2 linked regions of the Homo sapiens genome follow. The protein of the gene in region 1 purifies or fractionates together with the protein of each later gene. This does not show direct contact. Each region holds a gene or a part of one and is shown on either strand. Other genes may lie near its edges.

Evidence for each region. The genes of interacting proteins can lie anywhere in the genome.
Region 2: the proteins of DPH6 (region 1) and NPTN purify together in Homo sapiens (co-immunoprecipitation; 2 studies listed by BioGRID and IntAct, with this or other methods). This does not show direct contact.

What each region holds. Positions count from the first base shown.
Region 1 is NC_000015.10:35,539,539-35,543,291, reverse strand, and holds part of DPH6 (diphthine--ammonia ligase), read left to right. Parts: intron 1-784; coding exon 785-879; intron 880-3,753. UniProt on the Homo sapiens protein: Amidase that may catalyze the last step of diphthamide biosynthesis using ammonium and ATP. Diphthamide biosynthesis consists in the conversion of an L-histidine residue in the translation elongation factor (EEF2) to diphthamide.
Region 2 is NC_000015.10:73,598,688-73,602,440, reverse strand, and holds part of NPTN (neuroplastin isoform b precursor), read left to right. Parts: intron 1-3,753. UniProt on the Homo sapiens protein: Probable homophilic and heterophilic cell adhesion molecule involved in long term potentiation at hippocampal excitatory synapses through activation of p38MAPK. May also regulate neurite outgrowth by activating the FGFR1 signaling pathway.

The DNA.
Region 1 (3,753 bases):
ATATATATATATATATATATATATATATATATTATGTGTATGTGTGTACTATATGTATGTGTAGAGATGGCTGAAGTGCTGATAGTGCTGATGTTTCACGTCATCAGTGTAAGTCAGCATCTTGTTTTTTATCTCTGCAGAATTTGAACCCACCAAGTGTGTCAAACTTTGTCATTAGCTAGGTACTCAAATCTTTAATTTGATCCTTTAATTGCTGATGGTAGCCATTTGTTAGATTTCTTATGGTGGAGCAGAATTTGTTTTTTTTTTTACTTTCTCATAGAGAATAGTTTTTTTTTTCCCAATAATTTCTATGAAATTATTTTATATATATATATATATATATTCCTTAAGTGGAATAATATATATTATATATATTCCTTAAGTGGAATAATATATATTATTATATATATTCCTTAGGTAGAATATATATATTTCATATATAATTATATAATAAATGTTTAGCTGGGATGTAAATTGAAATCATTTTCTATTTGCAAATCACTTCAAATATATTTGCTATCACAAAGCAAAAAGTTACCATATTTTGTTTAGAATATTCTTATATATATATAGTTTCTTAAGCTCCTGTGAGTAGCAGCCCTAGACATTCAGATTCGGTTGCTCAGTTTGTTTATGATTTAGAAATTAATGGGTTTTTTTTGCATTGTAATATATTCTGAAGAGTCAAGTAAATGATATGTTCTGTTTTGATATCTAGTGATTTTATGTTGAATAATGGTCAGTAGCATGATATTTGTCCCTCTCTTGATTTATTGTTTAGTGGTGGGAAGGACAGCTGCTATAATATGATGCAGTGCATTGCTGCTGGGCATCAGATCGTTGCTTTAGCAAATCTAAGACCAGCTGAAAACCAAGGTAAGTACATGCCTTTATTGGGAAGTTGCCTAAATGAATGAAATTCCAACTTCATAATTACATTGTACAGGTATACCGTACAAAGATGAAAAAAAAAGAACCAATAAATATTAAGCACCCATTAGATGCTAGTTTCCACCTAGAACTTAGCATTAAGTGTTTTCACTTACTTTTTAATTCTCATAACCAACTTCTATAGAGATGCACTATTAATCTTAATAGACAGGGATCCTGAAGCTTAGAGTTTGTCTGAAGTAAACTAGCACAAACTTGTAGAGTTAAGACTTGAACCTTCTTACTTCAAAGTACACTACCATTTTACCCCACCACATTCCCAAGTACTGTAGGCAGCATAGAGGTAGATAAGATACAGTCTCAGGCCTCAAGGAGCTTGAGAAGTAAGACACATATTGATAAATGATATATTAATTTTATTATTAAAAGGATACAGTTTACCTATTTTAGATGTAAGCCAGAAATGTGAGACTTGAGAGAAGCATAAAGCAATGCATTCCCACTTTTCATTTGTCTGTAGTAACAAGGGCATCCACATATAATTCACAGACCTCATATTGACTACTTTTTTCATTCTTTTCTCCAATGAAATATCCCCAATTATAGCTTTTGAAAAAAGAAATATATTCACCAATTTGCTTTTTAATGCTATTGTGTTATACCTATGAAACTACAGATATTAACTGCTAAAATGTAAGAGGGAAAAAAGATTAGCACTTTTGTGACTTTTGTATTACTGCTTCTCACAGGACTTTTCTAGTAAGATCTTTTTATTCTCTCTTTTACTTCTTTCCAGGCTCCATGTTTTTGCACTGTTATTTTAAGATTAATTAAATGAGTGGTGTATGTGAGAACATCAGTCGTAGTTCCTGTCATGAAGTAGGCATTCTGTAAATTTAGCTGAATTGGAATCTAGCTAAATACTTGTTTTATATCTTTAAATGGATTGATTATAAGCTTCTTGAGAAGAGAGATCATATCTTCTATCTTCCTTTTATTGCTCCTCATCACTTGGGCCGGCTCTATGCCTCTGGTAGGAGTTCACGCAAGGTTGATTGGTGGACAGGTGTATAATGAACTAATTTGGATTAGCCCTGGAATAGTGAGCAGTTATTTCAGTCAGATATTTGAATCTTCTTTCCTTCTGTGATTAAGATGTAAGTAATGCTGGATGTCGTGTGGAAAGACAGAGTTTAGAAATATTTTATAGGAAGAAATGGAAAGGTCCCACAGAGAGTCAGAGGTAAATGCACATGTTTGGATTTTGTGCTGCAATTGATGAGTAACAGATGGTTTTTTAGAAGTGATGTTTTTTGAAAGAGTTCCAACTTTAAGAAAGAGAAAATTCTTTGAGGATGAATAGGAACTGCACTCTAACTTCTGTATTATAAAAGAAGAAGCAGAATCTCCTGTTAGGTTTACCAAAAGAGAGAAACTCCCTTATCCCTTGTGGCCAGGGGGAGGCAACTGGGACTTTCAAGCTATCTTGTGAAGTTAAAAAGCAGATGTTTATATAGTATATAATACATACATGGTATATTATAATTTCATCACTGGAGTTTCTATCTTGTTTTCAGCTTTCACATGAATTATTTTACTTACCTAGTACAGAACCATTAATATATAATCTTCCTTGTGTTCATGGTTCACCAGCAGGGTGGTAAAATGACAAGCAAAGTATATTTTTAAATTATACCTCTCAGTAGAATAGAGACACTTATTTAGAATATTGTTAGTGAGAAAAAATTTGATAGTAAATAGAATTAGAATATTCTGAAGTAAAAAGCCTGGAAAAGGCAGTCGAAACAATAGTAATTGTTGTAGAAGAAAACAGATGGCTGTGGGTTGGTAGATGGAGATGGTTTAGCTCATCTTGATGAAAATCAGCAGGACATTGGGAATTATTGAACAATTCACTGAATGACTTATTTTCCTATGAGTGTTATGAAAGAAACCTTAGTGAGGAATGACTGGTAGAGATGACTCCAATGTCCAGCAAAGTTACGGGTTTTCAATGGGTGGTGTGAAAAGGAATTTATTCCCATCAATGAGGATAATGCGAACTTGTCATAAAATTCACAAAACCATCTCTTTAGATTTGTAGTAGGAACTTTTGTGGCATGTTAATTGAGTTGCTTCAGGCAACAGGGGAGCCTTTGGTTTTATTTGATCTCACACTATTGTTGCTCTGTAGCTTCCATTAATCAAAGTTACAATGTGGTTAGGACTAAATAGAGCCTTAAAGAAAATTATCTTCTAGGTTTTTGAAGCCAGTGAGATGTTTTACTTATTATGCTAACATCAGAATGTTTCTTGCCAAGAAGCCCAAATTTCTTTGAGTAAATTGGTTTGATTGTATCAATATCCTTTAAAATGAATGTATTTAAAGATCCAGTCTAATTTTGAGACGAGAGAAGGCCGAAAGGTTTTTAGGTAACTTTGGCTATGTTCTCTACTTCCTACTGGGACCAGGAGTGGAAACATTTATAGTAACAATGTGAGTAATATTCTGAAGGAAGCCAATCTAACAATGTGTGAGTTCAGAAACCTGTCAGCCAAAATGGGGTAGCAGATTTTGATGATTTTGATTGTTGAAGGGGCCCTTGCACTATCACTTTTCATTCCTTTTGATAGGAAGTTTTCACATTTAATGGAAAGCCTGGACCTGTTTGGCTTATATTCATACATACACACATAGGTATATGTCAAAATAACTACTTTGTAATTTTTTTAATAGCATTTTGTGAACATTTTCCATGTCATTAAATATTATTCTACGATAGCATTTCCCATATGTCTTTAGAACACAAATACCCCCATTAAATTTACGTGTTCTGTGGGTAGATAAATTTGAGAGAT
Region 2 (3,753 bases), about 38 Mb from region 1:
TAGACGATTTGAATTTGTGTGTGTGTGAGAGAGACAGAGGAGAGAAACGCTCTTATGATCTTGGCTGTCATTTTCTCTTTATTGCGAGGAACGAAGGAGAGAACAGCATGAGCCAGCCACAGGGAATTAGAGGTAGAGGGGGTTTGAAGGGAACAGCTGTTTTTAAAAGAGGTGACAAAAGCAGGCAAGACTTAAAGGCCTGGCCTTGGCAGTAGTCAGTTGAGGGAGAGAGAAAGTTAGTCTGATTTCTTGTTCTGTGGGTTGCCCTGGAGGTAAATGTGAAAAATCATGATAGTCTCTCCTATATAGGGCTAGGCTAGCTTTTTTTACTTCCTTAGGGCATATATGAAAGCAGTTTTCCTGGGATTGGGCTCAACTTGCTCTTCTGTGTTTCCTTTTTCTTCTCACCCTCTGCTACATATCCACACATCCAGTTTTTCCTGCCAGCAAGCTCCTCCTTTTCTCCGGCTGCTAGTCCCAGCTGTCATCTTTGCCTCCCATCCCCCATCCCCAGTTATGCAATTTTACATTACGCTTCTCTTGGGTTTGCTGCCTCCATTTTTAATGCTCTGCCTGCTACCCCCTCCAGCATCAGCTTCTAGTCTCTTCCTCCCTCAAAGCCAGTAACCACTGTTCAGTTTCCCTCTTTATCACTGTTGCTCTGAATGCACTGATATTAATACTTTCCCAAAACTCTTGCAGATCTGGGCCCAGTCACTTAAGATAGTGGGTGGAGACGATGGTGGGGAAGAGGGTGGGGTAGGAGGTTGTCTTACAAAATTTAGGGTTTTTCCAAAATATTGGATGACCCTTGACCTAGAGAGCAAACAGATGCTTCTGTTGGCCTCCCAACTTTAGGCAGTGTGTGCTTTCTTGTTGAAGGTACATATTTGTTTGAAAGCCCTTAGTAATGAAAGGCAGGGCAGTGAGTCAGGCTCTGAACCTCCTGCTGCTGCTGCTGAGAGCCAGTTCTTTTCCTGAATTGAAGCTAATTTTGGATGGATAATAAGGTGGATGGTTGCTAATAACTTTCCCTTGCTAATTGTGATTTCACAGTACTTTGTAAAGAGGGTTCTTTTCTCTTTTCTCTTTTTCTTTTTCTTTTCTTTCTTTTCCATGCTGTTTGGAGGGGGAATAGATCTCTTTTCATGGTTTTTGATGAGTGTTCAGCTATCAAGGAATTCCTTAGTTTGTTTAGAGGCAGCACAGTTTATTGGAAAGAACCCTAGACTAAGCTAAGACCTGCATTCTAGTCCCAGCCCCACTCAGGATTAACTGCCTAAGTGATTTTGGGCAAGTCATAAACCTGTCTCCGCACCTGCCCTATGTATGAACCTTGTGGAACTGTGCGAATGAAATGAGATGTGATGTATGTGGAAGCTCTTTGCAAACTGCGGAGTTTTATAAAACTTTCAGGTGCTGCCCTTTATTAATTTGGCTCCTGACTACAGCATCAGAGAAATTTTTCCAGTGTCTTGTAAATTCCTTCCTTCTCTGAAGCCAGCCTTCTCCAGAGCAGGGCATTGGAATCATCAGAACTAGAGGCAGTCTTGCCTCAGAATCATCTTATCTTTTCACACTGTTCACCCTCCCCCCAGTTGCTTTAAGAACTCTTTGACCCAGTGCTTCTCTATCTCCATTCTCTAGTAAGATTATAATTTTATGGAGTTAGTGATCATAGTATGTTGCACAATTGGTCAAAGGTTCCTGGCTTTTTGTGGCCAGGAATTATTATTAATTAATTTATTAATTAAACTAAGTGGTGACAAAGCATATCTTTAACTTAAGTAACTACAAAAACCTTTTCAGGCCAGTGAGACACATTGACCACAGTTGTGGTAAGTGTTAAGAGACCATGCTTTCACTTTGGATTCCAGGCCAGACTCTTTGTTATTAGCTTGTGACCGTGGGCAAAATATTTAACTTTTTTGGACGTTAGTTTCCACATCTTTAAGAAAAATTATAATGGCACTTATCATAATGAATAAATGAATTTTGAATATGATAATGAATAAAGTGCTTAGCACATTGCCTAAACATATAATGCATACTTAGAAAATGTCACTGTTACTCTATATGTCTAATAATGGTAATAACAATAATGGCCTTCAAAGACCATTGTTGGCATTTTAAAGGGTTTTTTATCTTGTGTTTTAAAAGTTCATTTAAATATACATCCTATAATTTACTAATGCAAAGAACATTTTTGTCTTGGTCCCATTTTCCTTGATACAGGTAGAAAATTGAACTGACTCAGATCAGCATTCCTTACTCTTAGCAGGAAGTCTTGCCCAGGGTGGCATGATCTGGCTGAGTGACTCGCCCAGTTGTGTGCAGTGGGAATCATAGTCAGACTGTTTCTCAGCTACCTGTGACTTGTGTGTTATTAGGACTTGGGGTTACAGTGGAATTGGATGGATTCTTGGTGAAAGGATACTTTCAGGCATCTTTTTTACATTAGCATTGTCAACAGATTGATAAACAGGCTTAAGTCTAAGGCTGCTTTGAAGTACAATACAGAAGAAGGGAAAAAGTACAAAAGAAATCCACTAACAGTTCTAGGGCATAATCGAGTACATAATTACCGCATTTGAGAGGCTGTAACTCCCCAAGTTCACAGATAATGTGATAAGACCATTTGTGATTACCACTTATGGTCAAGAATATGATTAAAACAGAATAATACTTTTACTGCATTTCAGGGATTTACTGATATCCAGTTTTCTCTGGTGATTGAGCCAGTAGTAAAATAAATAAAACCAACTTCCTTTACTTCCCCTCCCTCCCTCCCTTCCTTTTCTTTCTTTCTTTCTTTCTTTTTTTTTTTTTGACGGAGTCTCGCTCTGTCGCCCAGGGCAGAGTACAGTGGCACGATCTTGGCTCACTGCAACCTCCGCCTCCTGGGTTCAAGTGATTCTTCTGTCTCAGCCTCCCGAGTACCTGGGACTACAGGTGAGCACCACCATGCCCAACTAATTTTTGTGTTTATAGTAGAGACGGGGTTTCACCATACTGGCCAGGCTGGTCTTGAACTCCTGACCTCATGATCCTCCCGCCTCAGCCTCCCAAAGTGCTGGAATTACAGGTGTGAACCATCACGCCCGGCCCTCCTTTACTTCTTTGTTTATATTAGCTGGCATTGACTTTGACAGGTGGGCAGGTGGTAGTTTGTGAGACCGAGACATGGCTCCTTGGATACCACTTTATTGGGCAGTGAGCTCAGCTCTTCATGCAGGGGCTTGGGGGCTCCTTTCTGTAATTCTAAAGCTTCTCCTGCATCTGAGAATGACATCTGTTGGGCTTCTTGGGGCCTCTGGTAGATATTTCCTTACAAGGAATGCATGCTGGATCTGAAGAGGTAGTTTAAAATGGCATATTAAAGGCAGAACGTTTAGTCTAAGCCTGTTAATCACTGCATTCCTGTGCTCCCCAGAGTCTGAAAATGTCAGGAATTGAAAGACTAGTATGAATTTGGAGGTCTTGGCCTCTACTTGAGTAAGTATAGTACCTCCATTAATGTTCTTAGTCCATGGTGTGGGGTTATCACCAAAGGCAAATACTGCTATGGATGTAAACAGGAATTTTTCCACTTAGTAACCTCCATTTTCAGCTAGCCCTGTTAACATCCTTGGCTTCTGGACTGTAGGAAAACAGTTCCATTTATTTCATCCTTTCCTCTGGAATGTTCTTAATTTGATGTTGGCAGATCCTGACCTCACTCCCTGCTTACTGCACAGGGGCTGGCTTGGCTTA